Regions from separate parts of the Homo sapiens genome. Here region 1 is linked to region 2. Evidence: fine-mapped expression QTL. A gene starts in region 2. The other region holds a variant in brackets. All regions are shown on one strand. Distances are between the middles of the regions.

Region 1 (8,324 bases), 25 kb before region 2:
GCTGAGGCAGGAGAATTGCTTGAACCCAGGAGGCGGAGGTTGCAGTGAGTCAAGATCGTATCACTGCTCTCCAGCCTGGGTGACAGAGTGTGACTCCGTCTCAAAAAGCAAAACAAAACAAACAAAAAAACACAAAAAAACAAAAAATCCAGTAGGAAAGATGTATTGTATAATGCTATCCACTGCAGGAAACAGCAGGGAATATTTTCCATAACAATCCAAAAAGAGCTCGTAGATGTTAACCCTATTTTGGAAAGGAGGTCCACAATAGTTGTTAAATTTAAAAATAAAAGTTGTTTTTTAAAAAATAGGTACAGTTTGATCCCATGCTTAGAAAATAAAAGTGCATTCCACGAAAAATAAAACGGCAAGTTGCAGTAGCTTAGGTAACATGGTCCTCCTTTTTTAAAAAATGCATATATATTTACACCATGCAAATAAGGAAGGCTGGAAAGTTTTTGAAAATGTTAGTTGTGTCTGAAAAGGTGTGATTTAATTTTTGCTTTGTCAATTTGCTTAGCTGTAAGTTCTGATTTTTTCCACACTGATTGAACACCATCAGTGTTAGGGTTTTTTGTTGTTGTTTGTTTTTTGTTTTTTGAGACAAGAGTGTTGCTCTGTCGCCCAGGCTGGAGTGCAGTGGCGTGATCTCGGCTCACTACAACCTCCGCCTCCCAGGTTCAAGTGATTCTTCTGCCTCAGCCTCCAAGTAGCTGGGACTACAGGCGCTCACCACCATGCCCAGCTAATTTTTCTGTATTTTTAGTAGAGACGGGGTTTCACCATATTGGCCAGGCTGGTCTCGAACTCCTGACCTCATGATCCACCAGCCTCGGCCTCCCAAAGTGCTGGGATTACAGGTGTGAGCCACCGCGCCTGGCCCCTGTGTTAGTTTATAAAAGTCTCGGGTATATTCTTGCACACCCTAAAGGTGTAATAATCCAGAGGATTTGTAAGCATTTGACCCAGAAAATCCAAATGCAACTGGGCATGTTGTAATGTCCAGCCCCCTCTCCCTGGGGTGGGACCACTCTTTCCCTTCTTGTCTCACTTCCCTACTGCTCCACAGCAAGTTCCTGGGGTCACTGATAACGTAAGTGCCCTTCAATCCTCATCTTGGAGTCTGTTTCAGGGGACCCAAACCATGACAGCCCCTCCTCATTTGAAGTCATCTGCGACGATCCTGTGGTTGATCCAAGATAGAATGAAGTTGGCCACCTGTCCCTGGGCTATTTCAGGGAAGTTTTCTGGTTTTGTTTTATAGAAACAGGGTCTTGCTCTGTTGCCCAGGCTGGAGTGCAGTGGTGTGATCATGGTTCACTGCAGCCTCAACCTCCTAGACTCAAGAGATACTCCTGCTTCAGCCTCCTGAGTAGCCAGATTACAGGTGTGCCCTACCATGCCCAACTAATTTCTCAATTTTTTTTGTAGAGACGAGGGTCTCACTCTGTTGCCCAAGCTGGTCTTGAGCTCCTGACCTCAAGCAATCCTCTCACCTCCTCAACCTCCCAAAGCATTGGGATTATAGGAGTGAGCCACCTCACCCAGCCTAATCCTTTTTTTTTTTTGAGATGGAGTCTCATTCTGTTGCCCAGGCTGGAGTGCAGTGGCAAGATTTCAGCTCACTGCAACCTCCACCTCCTGCGTTCAAGCGATTCTCCTGCCTCAGCCTCCCAAGTAGCTGGGACTACTGTCACACACCACCATGCCTGGCTGCTTTTTGCATTTTTAGTAGAGACGGGATTTCATCTTATTGATCAGGCTGGTCTCGAACTCCTGACCTCAGGTGATCCACCCACCTTGGCCTCCCAAAGTGCTGGGATTACAGGCGTGAACCACCATGCCCAGCCCTAATCCTCATGTTGAGGTCTGTTTTAGGGGGACTCAAAGCACGACAGCCCCTCTTTATTCGAAGTCATGTGGAAGGATCCTGAAGTTGACTCAAGACAGAGCTGTCGGTCCCCCGCCTGTTTGGGGGAAGTTTTATGGCATGAGGGGACACAGGGCTCTTACCACACCCTCACCCCACAGTAGCTCCACTGGCCAGCTTTTTTTTTTTTTTTTTGGTTTGATTGTGTCTTGCTCTGCCGCCCAGGCTGGAGGGCAGTGGCTCAATCTTGGGTCACTGCAACCTCCACCTCCCAGGTTCAAGCGATTCTCCTGCCTCAGCCTCCCAAGTAGCGAGGATTACAGGTACCCCCCCCCCGCCACCCCGCCCCACTACACTAGGCTAATTTTTGTACTTTTAATAGAGAGGGGGTTTCACCATGTTGGCCAGGCTGGTCTTGAATTCCTGACCTCAAGTGATCCGCCCACCTTAGCCTCCCAAAGCACCGGGATTACAGGCATGAGCCACCATGCCAGGCCCCACTGGGCAGCTTCCCTACTGCACCTGCCCTGGTTTCCTCCCAAATCTTGTCGGCCATCCAGGGGTGGGGAACGTGGGCAGTGTTTTGGTGCCGAGCAAAATCCCACAAACTGCTGTGAAAACCAACCAGGAACATTTATTAAAAAACTAAGCAAGTTATCCCCAAGAGGGTGAAGCACCGCTGGCTGGTTCTGACATTCGATTCAGGCTGAAGGCACGGCAACTCCTCCAGCCCTTGCTGGGAAATGTCCTACCCAGGCCACGGGCAGTGCCCCAGTGCAGCTGGGTCCCCTAAAAGCCCCCAAACACATGATCCCACCAAAGGCTTGAACAGAGCAACTTCATCAAGCAGGCAGGGACCACACCTGAGACACAAGGGCAAGGAGGTAAAGCACAGGGGACCGGGAGTGGGCCAGGGACACCCAGCCCCCGTCTCCAACTGGCGCCCCCTCCAGGGGGGCTAACATGTGGCGTGGGGCCACCAGGACCTGTGCTTGCCCCTGGTGGCGGAAGAGCTACCCTCCCTCTTGGGTGGTGGGGGGATGTTGTCTGCACACAGCTCAGACGACCGAGGGTACAGGAAGAATCAAACTCAGTCAACCATTCTTCAACCCAACTGGGAGTCTGTGAGGCCTGGCACACAGGTGCTCAATAAACACTTGTGGCATGAAGAAGTGAAGGAACCGATCTTGTTCATCTCTGTGCCCCAGCACTCGGCATGTAGCCCATGATCGAAAATGCAGACTGAACAACTGTCACACTCTTTTGTATCACTAGTGCCCGGCACACAGTCAGTGCTCTTCAGGTGTGTGGGAAAGAAGCCAATGAGTGAGAAGTTCCCACACCGTCTAGCAGTGAGGAAAAAAAGAAAAAAGTAAAAAGTACCTTGTTTACTCCCATTCCCATCCCATAGCTCAGCTCCCTGCACACAGCAGGTGCTCAGTAAGTGTACCGAATCAGGAACTTATCTTTGTGACATGAGTGCCAGGCACACAGTAGGTGACCAATATGTGCTTGAATAAATGGATAGAAGCATCTTATTTATCTCAATATTCCCAGAGCCTGGGCTGGGCACAGTGGCTCATGCCTGTAACCCTAGCACTTTGGGTGGCCAAGGCGGGCAGATCACTTGAGGTCAGGAGTTCGAGACCAGCCTGGCCAAC[A/G]TGGTGAAACCCCGTCTCTACTAAAAATACAAAAACTAGCCAGATGTGATGGCACGCACCTATAGTCCCAGCTACTTGGGAGGCCGAGAAACAAGAATTGCTGGACGCTGGGAGGCGCAGGCTGCAGTGAGCCGTCACACCACTGCACTCCAGCCTGGGTGACAGAGACAGACTCTACTCTTAAAAAAAAAAAAAAAAAAATCCCAGAGCCTGGAATGGCACCCAACACACAGTAGGCACTCAATAAATCCTTGAATGAATTTTAAAAATGAATGTGTATCACTAGTGCCTGATTCTTAATCTGATCAGTAACTGCTTGATGACTGAATCAATCGCTGATGGAGGGAACAATTATGCCTCATTCACTGCCGTAACATGGGAACCTTGCATACAGCAGGTGCTTAATAAATGCTGGGCACATGAACAGATGAAGAGGGCTTGGTTCCTCCCAATTCCCCAGGGCCAAGCCCTGTTGCTGGCATGCAGTAGGCACTCCATTAATGCTGCCTGTGTGCACGTGATTGCTTAGCAAGAGCTGGCTGGACACCACCCCACACGAGAGCCCTCTGTGGCCTGCCAAGGGGTCCAGAGGTGGACCTGATGTCCTCAGTAAGCACGTGGAGCCTGGGCCACCGATGGCTGCTTTGGCTTTCTGGCTGCTACCCCTCAGAGTTCATCCCGGGCAGCACTGTCCAGTGGGGACTGGAGCACGTCCGAGTTCTTGGCCTCACGGCTCAGTGCCTGCTGCTCCCGCATCTTCTGGGACTTGGCGCGGTCCCAGTCGGTCTTGACGTGCTCATTGTTCCATACGACTGAGGTCTCGGTGTCACTCACATAGCCATCGTCTCCTGTGTAGTGTGTGGGGTAGATGAGCAGCGGCTCCACAGAGAAGGCATGCAGGTTGCGGAGGGAGAAGTGGGCCTTGTACTCGGACCTGGGGGGAGGAGGAGGGGAGTGAGGGGCAGCAATGGCTTCAGGGGACGGGACAGCTGGAGGAAAAATTGGGGGTGAAGAAGTCAGCGGGGACAGATTAAAACGTAAGTGTGCAGGGGATACAAATGGAGACAGATCTGCGAGGGGGCAAACGGAGGGAGAAGTAGGCAAAAGAAGAGACATCTTCTCGGAGGCCGTGAGTCTCACATCCCCATTCTCCCAGGACAGACCCACCGTGAAACCCCAGCCCAGCAGCCGCCTGCCCCTCTCACACTGGGTGTTTGTCGAACATGACGGGCAGGAACTCGTCCACAGGCAGCATCTTGGAGAGCGGCTCAGCAGCCAGCAGTTTGCGGGCGCCTTGCAGGGAGATCACGTAGGCCAGGGTCCAGTAGGAATAGTCGGCCTCCACCAGGTTCCTCACGCGAGGCACAGCCTTCTCGGGGTGCTCCACCTGCATCCGCTTCCGGCCCACATAGCTGGGGTGCAAGATCGGGCCTGTCACTCTCCTCCCGCCCTCCGGAGGGAGCTTGCCCAGAAAGCCAGGGATCTAGTTACCCCGTCAGGTCCTGGGATGGGAGCAGGCTCAGCATGTTTGCAGAGCTCTGTGACTGGATGGAGTGAATGCAGGAGCCCAGGGGTCTGGCGGTCATGGGGGAGAAGAGTGAGTTTTTCCAAAGGGCGTGAGGGAGCCATGGAGGATCTGGAGCTGGGGAGAGCAGGATCACGCAGACGTTCTCTGAGGCTGAAGCTGCTCTGAGTTCAGAGGACAGTGGGGGTGGAGGTGGGCGAGGTGCCCTGATGGGGGGGCAGTCAGGAATGGAGGGGTGCAGTTACTATTCACATGGGGCAGTGTTCCCAGAATGCAGATTAGGGCACTGCACATGGAAGGGAAAAAAGAGATGGAGGAAGGGAGAGGACAAACCAGCCCACTTACAGAAGAGAAGGACGGCTCCAGTGCTGGAAACATGTTGGTGGCACTCCCATCCAGGGGCTTGTCTAAGACCAGGCGCCCTGGCCACGCCCCCACACTCTTCGGCCACACCTCCAGCTCTGACCACACCCCCATGCTCTTCAGCCACGCCCACAGGCTGCCCGGTCAAATTTTAGCCACATCCACCTCCACAGGCCTCAGTCAAGTCTCTAAGCCTTGACCAAGCCTGCAGGCTTCCGGCCAGGTCCCTTGAGTTCTGGGTGATCCTTCCAACGCCCTTCCCTATAGGCTACAGCCCTGACAGTGCCTTCAGGCCCAGGAACCACGTGAGCCCTCCTGCTACGCTTCCAAGGGTTGGCCACGCCTGCCACCCTGACCACACCCAGACATACAGGCTCTAGGCTCAGCTGCAGCGCTGTGGCCACGCCCGTAGGATTCAGCTCCACTCCGCCTCCCAGCCCCACCTCTAAGCCCTGGCCATGTACCTAGGCTCCAGTTCCACCCCACCTTCAAGCCCCGCCTCTAAGCCATGACCCATCCCCAGGTCCCAGCTCCACCCTGCCCCCACCCCCACCTCTAAGTCCTGGCCTTGCCCCAGGCCCCAGCTTCACCCCATCCTCAGACCCCCACTCACATGAGGTCCCAGTCCAGGCCCTCCCGCTCCACATCCCGCATGAGGTTCATCAGACGTCTCTTGAAGAAGATCTCAAAACGCAGGTCATCCTCAAACACAAGCGATTTCTGCAGCCCCCGGTCCACCACCTGAGGGAGGAAGCCCCGCCACATCACAGGGAGGCCAAGGCCAGGCCTGACCCTAAAGCACAGAGCTTTGCTTTGAGAAGGTTTGAAAGACCCGTAGAGAAGCCAGTGCATCTCCCTGCCTCTCCTAGCTCCAGGGACATCTGGACATCCAAACCTCTGCCCTCTGCCGTCCATAATGGATCTCAGAAGAGAAAGGCCTCCCAGCCCCTCAAATGCCCACGCCTCATGCACCTCCCGCCTTGCAGCCGCACACCCCCATTTGGCTTCACATTCGATAACAAGTTTTTCTTTTCTTTTTCTTTTTTTTTTTTTTTGAGACGGAGTCTCGCCCTGTCGCCCAGGCTGGAGTGCAGTGGAACGATCTCAACTGCAACCTCCGCCTCCCAGGTTCAAGTAATTCTGCCTCAGCCTCCTGAGCAGCTGGGATTACAGGCATGTGCCACTACGCCCGGATTTTATTTTTCTTTTTTTGAGATGGAGTGTCACTCTTGTCGCCCAGGCTGGAGTGCAATGGCATGATTTCAGCCCACTGCAACCTCTGCCTCCTGGGTTCAAGTGATTCTCCTGCCTCAGTCTCCCAAGTAGAGGGATTACAGGTGCCCACCACCACACCCAGATAATTTTTGTATTTTTAGTAGAGTCTAGGTTTCACCATGTTGGCCAGGCTGGTCTTGAACTCCTGACCTAAGGTGATCCGCCTGCCTCGGCCTCCCAAAGTGCTGAGATTACAGGCATGAGCCACCACGCCCAGCCATTTTTCTTTTTTCTGAGACACGGTTTTGCTCTGCTGTCCAGTCTGCAGTGCAGTGGCACGATCTTGGCTGACTGCAGCCTTAACTCCTGGGCTCAAGCCACTCTCCCACTTTAGCCTCCCAAATAGTTGGGACCACAGGTGTGCGCCACCATGCCCGGCCCTGATGGCCCAAGTTCGAAGCCTAGTCAGACACCCTCCTCCAATCACAGCCTCTCCCTCTGAGGGTGGATGAGGATGCCTGGGCTGGTGAGTGCCCCCAGCAGCACTGGGCAGGTGCTGGTTTAAAGTGGCTCTGTGGCCATGACTTCTAGTACTAAACATCAAGCACAGAGACCAGGCTGGGAGTAATGAGGATTTGTTTACAGGTCCCAGGCCCCAGACACCACCTGCTGCTCAAAAGGGCTCACCCCTACCCCCAGGCTCAGTTTCCACATTTGCGCAATGGAAGGATGGCAGGTACACCTGGGGGTGATACAGCTGGTGTGGCGCATCATTCACTAAAGAGAGGCCATGGGTCCCATGGCTGAGGCTGGATGCCTAGCCGGGGCTTTGGGGAACTCTTTCAACCCCTTTCCCGTCCAAATCTCCGATGAGATCTAGAGTCATAACTCTGGCCCCGCCCATCACTCAGGACACACCTCCTTCCAGATGTTGTAGTGGCTCAGGAAGCAGCCCAGCTCACCCTTGGTGAGGGGCCGGCCGTGGTAGGGGTCCCGGTAGCCAGGCAGCATCTGGATCCCCAGCGCCTCCACCTGGCTGGTGTTCATGGCTCTGGAGAGGAGGAGGAGAGGGTCACGAAGAAGGTTCACCCTGCCTGCCATTCTGCCATCCCCGGCCATTCCACCACCCCCTGCGGCGTTGAGCAGCTGGTCCACCTCTTGTAGCACTGGCACCCCTTCCGGGCACATGGGGCCTCACTCACCTGCACATGGTATACACTCGCGGGCAAACCTGCTCTCCTCCTCTCCTGGGGTCTGACTGACTTACCCCTCCACAGTCCCCACCAGTCTACACTGGCAGCATGCAAACCTACCCATTCCCCTGGGTCAGGACTCACTTGCCTTCCATGGTCTACAACTGTGAGGATCTGCCCCTTCCCCAGGGTCCCATTCACTTCCCCTTCAGGACGCCCACTGACGAGGTCTACATCTGTTTGGACACCACGCCCGCCCCCATCTGAATCACTTGCCGTCTACCAGCGAGGTCTACACCCACATCCACGTGCGGACCCGCCCCCCCACCCCCAGGCCTCGGACTCACTTGCCGTCCACGGCCTCCACCAGCCGGCACTCGATCTCCTGTGCCTGCAGCGCCCGCAGCATGCGCTCCCGCCGGTCCTGCCGCCGCCTCAGGTTGATCATGAAGACCTGCAGCCCGGAGAGTCCCCAGCCAGATCAGCCCCTGCAAACA
Region 2 (8,324 bases):
CTCCTCCACTGACCAACCATATCACCTCAAGCAACTCATCTCCCCTCTCTAAGCCTCAGTTTACCCTTCTGCAAAACAACATTAAGGATGGTCCTGGCATCCTGCTGCTCCGCCTTCCCTGGGGATACCCAGACCTGCCTGTGATCCATATCCGGCCGGCTGAGAAACTTACCAGGATGTAATCAGCCCACATGTCTCGAGCTGATTTCAGGGCTGCCTGGCGCAACTTCATGACATGCTCGTAGCGTGAGTCAGACCAGTGTTTCGGGCCTTCCTCGTCCGGGTAGGACCTATGGGGAGGCAGCTGTGATGTGGACATCACAAGGCACTATCAAAGCCCAGCGAGGGCCTGAGCTGCCTTCGGGGTACTCAGAGAGAGCTTCCTGGAGGAGGGGACGTGTAAGCTGATCTGAGGGATGGGAAAAAGTAAACGACGAGGAAAGAGAAGTGGGGAGAATGTTCCTGGCCGGAGGTACAGCCTGTGCAAAGGCCTGGAGGGAAGAAAGCCCGAGGCACACTGGAGGGAAGGAAGGAAGGAAGCTCAGTGGGGTCCAGTGCAGTGGCCCACGCCTGCGATCCCAGCACTTTGGGAGGCAGAGGTGGGAGGATCGCTTGAGGCCAGCACTTTGAGACCAGCCTGGGCAACACAGTGAGACCCTATCTCTACAAAAAATACAAAAACATTAGCTAGGCATGGTTACATGTGCCTGTAGTCCCAGCTACTCAGGAGGCTGAGGCGGGAGGATGGCTTGAGCCCAGGAGTTAAAGGCTGCAGTAAGCTGTGTTCACTCCACTGCACTCCAGCCTGGGTGAGGGAGTGAGACCCTGTCTCAAAAAAAAAACAAAAACCCAGAAAGGAACTGGGTGGGGGCAGGGAGTCCATGCTGCCCAGGGCTTTAGGGAGTAGATAAACAGCAAAGCCAGTGCTGGGACCAAGACTGAGTCAGTGAGCCAGGGAACAAAGCAGTGGGCGTCCCCAGAAGAAAAAGGGAGTGAAAGAATTCTAGGTACAGGGAACGGCTTGGGCAAAGGTCTGAGAAGAGGATTATGGCCTATTTGTAAAGCTGAGGGAGGCTCAGAGTAGCTTAATGCTGCCTGGCTGGGCTGGAGGCAGGGACTGAGGGCCTGTAATTGTTCTGGGGCAATGGGGAGCCATAGAGGGTGTGTGAGCAGAGGCAAAGCCCAATCAGACTAGGAGCAGGGGAAAGATGCTCACCTGGGCTCCTCTGCTGGCCGCCACTCCACGGAATGGTACAAACTCTTCACGGCCACCAGCCACTCCCGCAGCACAGTTGACGTGTTATCCATGTTGTGGTCCGTAGCCACCCTGCAGGGAGAGGGGACAGGCAGCGTACTTGGGGAGACTGAGGCAGGACCAGGCAGCAGTGAGGCAAGTCAAGGACCACCATCCCCAACTGGCCTCCCACCAGCTATGTATCCCTGGACAGGACACTTCTCCCTTTCCTTTGTTTTTTTTTGAGACAGAGTCTCGCTCTGTTGCCCAGGCTGGAGTGCAGTGGCGCGATCTCGGCTCACTGCAAGCTCCGCCTCCCGGGTTCACGCCTTCTCCTGTCTCAGCCTCCCAAGTAGCTGGGACTACAGGCGCCCGCCACCACACCCGGCTAATTTTTTTGTATTTTTAGTAGAGACGGGGTTTCACCATGTTGGCCAGGCTGGTCTCGATCTCCTGACCTCGTGATCCGCCCACCTTGGCCTCCCAAAGTGCTGGACTTAACAAGCGTGAGCCACCGCGCCCGGCCCATTTCTCCCTTTCCATGTCAGTTTCCTCATCTGTAACATGGGGGTGGGAACAGGACCCAGTTTACTGGGAAGTGGAAGGATTAAACAAGCTGATTTTGGAAAGACCCATTAGTGATTGGCTGTTTTATTACTGAGCATCTAAGATCTTGCAAACCACATTCACTAACAAATATGTGTCACTTAATTTTTTTTTTCTTTTGAGACAGAGTCTTGCTCTGTCACCCAGGCTAGAGTGCAGTGGCACAATCTTGGTTCACTGCAATCTCCGCCTACCAGGTCCAAGCAATTCTCCTGCCTCAGCCTCCCGAGTAGCTGGGATTACAGGTGCCCACCACCATGCCCAGCTAATTTTTGCATTTTTAGTAGAGATGGGGTTTCGCCATGTTGGCCAGGCTGCTCTCGAACTCCTGACCTCAGGTGATCCACCTGCCTCAGCCTCCCAAAGTGCTGGGATGACAGGAATGAGCCACCGCACACGGCAATTTTTGTAATGTATAGATCAGGCCAGGCACGGTGGCTCACGCCTGTCATCCCAGCACTTTGAGAGGCCGAGGCGGGTGTATCACCTGAGGTCAGGAGTTTGAGACCAGCCTGGCCAACATGGCGAAACCCCATCTCTACTAAAAATACAAAAATTAGGCCGGGCATGGTGGCTCACGCTTGTAATTCCAGCACTTTGGGAGGCCGAGGCGGGTGAATCACTTGAGGCCAGGAGTTTGAGCCTAGCCTGGCCAACATGGTGAAATCCCATCTCTACTAAAAACACAAAAAATTAGCTGGGTGTGGTGGCGGGCACCTGTAATCCCAGCTACTCAGGAGGCCGAGGCAGGAGAATCGCTTGAACCTGGGAGGAGGAGGTTGCAGTGAGCCGAGATCGTGCCACTGCACTCCAGCCTCAGCAACGAGAGCGAGACTCAGTCTCAAAAAATAAATAAATAAAAAATATTAAAAAATGAAATGTATATATCAGAAACCAGCTGGGTGCAATGGCTCACGCCTGTAATCCCAATATGTTGGGAGGCCGAGGTGGGCAGGTCACTTGAGCTCGGGAGTTCGAGACCAGCCTGGCCAATAGGGCAAAACCCCATCTCTAGAAAAAATACAAAAATTAGCTGGGCGCAGTGGCATACGCCTGTAGTCCCAGTTACTCAAGAAGCTGAGGCAGGAGAATCACTTGAGCCCAGGAGGGGGAAGTTGCAGTGAGCTAGGATTGCACCACTGCACTCCCGCCTGGGCGACAGATGTAAAACCCTGTATCAAAAAAAAAAGTATATCTCAGCAGGGCGCTGTGGCTCATGCCTGTAATCCCAGCACTTAGGGAGGCCGAGGCAGGCAGATCATGAGGTCAGGAGATCAACACAAGCCTGGCCACAATGGTGAAACCCTGACTCTATTAAAAATACAAAAATTAGCCAGGCATGGTGGTGCGCACCTGTAATCCCAAGCTACTCGGGAGGCTGAGGCAGGAGAATCACTTGAACCCGGAGGCGGAGGTTGCAATGAGCTGAGATCGTGTCACTGTACTCCAGCCTGGGCGACAGAGCAAGATTCCGTCTGAGAGAAAAAAAAAAGTATATCTCAAAGTATATCTCATAAATCCCTTACCCTGCCTTCATCTTCTCCTGTGAGCCACACCACTTCAGTGGGCTGCAGTCAATTATTCATTCAACAAACATTTGTTAAGTACCAATTGTGTATTTGGATTATCCAGACTGAGAAATCAGGTGGAAGGAAAAGCGACATTTGGGAGTTTAGTTTGACCGTAGTGCCAAAAGCTAATTCTGCCCAATAAATTAAGTTGACAATAACACCAGCAATGACAGTAATCATGATAATAAAATCACTGAGAGCCAAGCCCATGCCAGACCCAAGGGCTCCACATCCATTAACTGGATAATCTTCAGAGACAAACCCAAAAAGAGAATTATATTAATACGCTCATTTTCTTTTCTTTTTCTTTTTTTAGAGGCAGGTCTTACTCTGTAGCCCAGGCTGGAGTGCAGTGGTGCAATCATAGGTCACTGCAGCCTCGAACTCCTGGGCTCAAGCGATTCTCCTGCGTCAGCCTCCTGAATAGCTGGGACTACAGGCACACACCACCGCACCTGGCTAATTTTTGTATTTTTTTTCTAGAGACGGGGTTTTGCCATGTTGGCAAGGCTGGTGTCGAACTCCTGAGCTCAAGTGACCCGCTTACCTTGGCCTCCCAAATTGCTAGGATTACTGCGTGAGCCACTGCACCCGGACCCATTTTCCATTTGAGAAAACTGAGGCAGGGAGTGAGAAGTCACCAGTCAAAGGTTTCTTCAGAGCTCTGCCCCATTCCCTACCAAGAAAGCATCCACTTCCTCCTGGGCCATCTGGTCCTGGACTCCACCCACGCCGGTCTGAGGGCAGGGGTTTGACTGGGGCCTGGAGCCAGGCTGAGTTCAAGCTTAAGGGCAGCAGCCGGCACAGAAAGGCTTGCTGTTAGATGTGGCCTCTGGCAACGCCCCAGTGGGGGCTCTGGGCTCCGTCCTTTGGAGGTGTACGTGCCCCAGAGGGAGTTAGAGCCCCAGTTAGTGAGGCCGGAGCTGCCCTAGTAGGGTCCAGCAGGCAGAAGCGGTGCCCAGCCCACCCCAAAGGAGCCAGCAGGAGGAACTCGGTCCCGCTTGTGTTGTGGGGAGGGCTGTGTCTGGCCCCATGGGAGGACAGCAGGCAGGGGGCACGCGTGGACCCGTCCCGATGGGGGCAGCGGGCAGGGGCATGCGTAGAACCGTCCCGATGGGGGTAGCGAGCAGGAAGCACGCGCGGACCCGCCCAGAAGAGGACAGCGGGCAGGGGCTCGCGTGGACCCACCCCTATGGGGACAGCAAGCAGGGGCTCGCGTGACCCGCCTGATGGGGACAGCGGGCTCGACTCACCATAGCGCCGTGCGCTCCCGCGGGTGCCGCAGCCGCTCGAGTGCGCCCAGCGTGGTGGGCAACGCGTGGGCCGCGTTTCGCGCCAACAGCGCGATGAGCACGCGCGGCGCCTGCAGGGGCGACTCCGGGCTCCAGCGCTCCTCGGGGAAGTAGGCGTCGGCGCCCGGCGGGGCCCCCGGCGGCAGTGGCGCCAGCAGCAGAAGCAGCAGCGCCAGGAGCGGCTGCCCGCGCCGCCGGCCCGCGCGTGGGGCCGCCGCCATCGCGCCACGCGTCTCCTTTAAGTCGTTTTTCTGCGGGAGGACTCTGGCCGCGCCTTAAAGGGGTCATAGGGGCCCCGCCCGGCCGCGCGCCTTAAAGGGGAGGAGCGCGCCGGGCGTGAAGTCCAGGCCCCGCCTCCAGACGCTCTCCGAGTCCCAAGGCCCGGAGTGACGTCACCTGCAGCCCTACCCAGGACGCCCCGCCCCCGCACCGATCTTAAAGGCACATAGCGCTCGGAGCGCGTGGAAGGGATGTTAGGGGTAGCGTTAGGGTTAGGAACCCGCGCTTCCTCCAGGCGCCTCCTACCACTGAGACCTCCGCCAGATGCGCCGCCCAATTTCCCCATGTATAAAACCCGGGCTGTGCCACCAGGCGGACTTGGCTACTTAGGACCTGGTTTGGGACCCAAGAGACCTTAGCCTCAGTTTCCTCTGCTGCAACGTGGGTTTTGCCATCCTGGTTTTGGATCTCACAGGGATGTCATTGAGGGTTGTGGAGAATAAAGGTCATGACGTCCACAGACCTGGCGTCACATTCAGTCCCCGCCTTGGGCTTGCTATATGTGAGCCTCAGTCTGTCCATCTATAAAATGAGATCATAGAGACCCTATAGGGTTGGCGTGAAAATAGAGCCAGGGCATGATAATGGACCGTTCTGGGCACAAGCTCTTCCAGAGACAAGGGCCATGTTTTCATGGAAACGCTGTCAAGGGATTGTTTTCCAATACTCTAGAGCCGCATTTTCAAATTGATTGACTTAGTATCACACTTTTTTTTTTTTTTTTTTGAGACGGAGTCTGGCTTTGTTGCCCGGGCTGGAGTGCAGTGGTGCAACATAGCAAGACCGTGCCTCTATTTTTAAAAACAATAAAAACTTTAAAAAATACATCTGAACATTATTATTATTATTATTATTATTTTCTTTTTTTTTTTTTTTGAGACAGCGTCTCACTCCATTGCCCCGGCTAGAGTACAGTGGCGCGATCTCGGCTCACTGCAACCTCCGCCTCCCGGGTTCAAGCGATTCTCCTGCTTCAGCCTCCTGAGTAGCTGGGACTACAGGCACGCGCCACCACGCCCGGCTAATTTTTGTTTATAGTAGAGATGGGGTTTCACCATATTGGCCAGGCTGGTCTCGAACTCCTGACCTCCTGATCCGCCCACCTCAGCCTCCCAAAGTGCTGGGATTACAGGCGTGAGCCACCGCGCCCAGCTTATTATTATTTTCACAGAGAGGGTCTTACTCTGTGGCTCAGGCTAGAGTGCAGTGGCATGATCACATGATCATGGCTCACTGCAGCCTCAACCTCCTGGGCTCAACTGATCCTCCTGCCTCAGCCTCCCAAGTAGCTGGGACTACAAGTGCACTCAACCACGCCCAGCTAATTTTTAAATTTTTTGTAGAGATGGAGTCTCGCTATGTTGCCCCGGCTGTTCTCAAACTCCTGGTCTCAAGTAATCCTCCCCCTTCAGCCTCCCAAACTGCTGGGATTACCAGTGAGCCATCATGCCCCGCTAAAACTTAATTTTTAAGAATGATACAGGCCAGGTGCAGTGGCTCACGCCTGTAATCCCAGCATTTTGGGAGGCTGAGGCAGGCGGATCACTTGAGGTCAGGAGTTCGAGACCAGCTTGGTCAATATGGTGAAGCCCCCATCTCTTCTAAAAACACAAAAAATTAGCCGGTCATGGTGGCGCTTCGCCTGTAATCCCAGCTACTACGGAGGCCGAGGCAGGAGAATCACTTGAACCCAGGAGGTGGAGGTTGCAGTGAGCCAAAATCGCACCACTGCATTCCAGCCTGGGTGACAGAGTGAGACACCGTCTCAAAAAAAAAAAAAAAAAGGTAAAAACAAATTTACACTCTGTGGACTTGATGAGGAAAGGTCTTTTCATATTAAGTAAGAAAAAGGAGGTGACAAGATACATCCCATCCCATCTGGAAGGATTTAGACCCAAGGGCAAACAATGTTTTTCTCAAAAGGGGCAGGATGACAAATTCTTGTAGCTGCAATTGTTCCAGAATTAACATCTACATCCCGTCCGGGGTAAAAGGAAGACAGCTAAAGAAGCCTATGAAGTGCAAATGTATTGAGCAAATGTATTTCGGAAGGTGGGGTTGGAGGGAAATAGGTGGAAAGGTCAGGAATATCTCATTGTCTTGGGGTAGGCCGAAAACTCCAGACAGAATGGGAGGAAACGGTCTCCAGGGAGTGTGAAAGTCCCTCTGCAAGCTGAACCAAGAACACACGGGAATCCCTGTGGAACCCACTCCGGAAGCAGCTGCAAGACAGCAGAGAAGCTGCCAATATCCAGTTAGCAGATGACTTTGCTGGCAAGCAGAGGAAGTCGGTAAAAGCTTGTCTCCCAGCCAGGAAACTTGACACCAAGTTAAGATTTGGAGCTAGGAAACAAACCCAAAAGGCTCACAGCAAGCGGAGAAAAAAACCCCAAAATCTGTAACCTGTATCACAAAGCGTTCATATCCTTCAGATATAAAGAGTTATTAGATATCAATAAGAAAAATGCAAACACTCCTGAAAAGTAGAAAAAAGCTATGAACAGGCAATTCACTGAAATTAAAAAAAAAAAAACTACAAACATGTAAATGGCTAATCAACATATTTGGATTTTGTTTTTTGAGACAGGGTCTCACTCCCATCACCCAGGCTGGAGTGCAGTGGTGCAATCACCACTCACTGCAGCCTTGAGTTCCCAGGCTCAGGTAAATCTCCCATCTCAGCCCAGCTTCTTTTAAATTTTATTTATTTATTTATTTATTTATTTATTTATTTATTTATTTTATTTTTTAGTAGAGACAGGTTTCACCACATTGCCCAAGCTGGCCTCAAAACTCCTTGGCTCAAGCAATCCACCTGTCTCAGCCTCCCAAAGTGCTGGGATGACAGGCGTGAGCCACCACTCCCGGCCGCTAATTTTGTATTTTTTGTAGAGATGAGGTCTCACTATGTTCGCCAGGCTGGTCTTGAACTCCTGAGCTCAAGTGATCTGCCCGCCTCAGCCTCCCAAAGTGCTGGGATTACAGGTGTGCACTGCCACGCCTGGCCATAATAAACTTATTTGTAAGTTCAATTTAGTCAAAGAAATTCAAAATAAAATCATGAGATTTCTGTGTGTGTCTAACTGGCATAGCTTTTTTCTTTTCATGAAAAGTCCTAGTGTTTAGAAAGGATTTGGAGGCTGGACATAGTGGATCACTCCTATAATCCTAGCACTTTGGGAGGCCAAGGCAGGAGGATTGCTTGAGTCCAGGAGTTTGAGATCAGCCTGGGCAGCATAGCGAGACCTTGTCTCTATTATTTAAAAAAAAAAAATTAGGCCACGTGTGGTGGCTCACACCTGTAATCCCAGCACTTTGGGAGGCTGAGGGGGGCAGATCACT

What was found. PIP is the estimated chance that this variant, and not a neighbour inherited with it, causes the effect.
Region 1: its variant is fine-mapped to the expression of COLGALT1 in whole blood (TOPMed, PIP above 0.99).

Annotation. Positions count from the first base shown.
Region 1 is chr19:17,577,318-17,585,641 of GRCh38, reverse strand. COLGALT1 (collagen beta(1-O)galactosyltransferase 1) reads right to left here. Exons shown (of 12, transcript NM_024656.4): 8 at 8,175-8,281; 9 at 7,553-7,685; 10 at 6,033-6,160; 11 at 4,737-4,943; 12 at 2,485-4,465. The coding sequence ends at 4,198. Among named protein-coding and RNA genes, the nearest start is that of COLGALT1, 26 kb to the right of the region's middle. RefSeq lists enhancers at 5,408-5,702, 5,537-5,746. The variant A/G (reference allele first, on the strand shown) is at 3,532.
Region 2 is chr19:17,552,314-17,560,637 of GRCh38, reverse strand. It overlaps COLGALT1 (collagen beta(1-O)galactosyltransferase 1), which reads right to left and starts at 4,989. Exons shown (of 12, transcript NM_024656.4): 1 at 4,665-4,989; 2 at 1,217-1,327; 3 at 173-290. The coding sequence starts at 4,924. It overlaps NIBAN3 (niban apoptosis regulator 3), which reads right to left. Exons shown (of 15, transcript NM_001321827.2): 15 at 6,998-8,324. RefSeq lists a silencer at 4,822-4,911.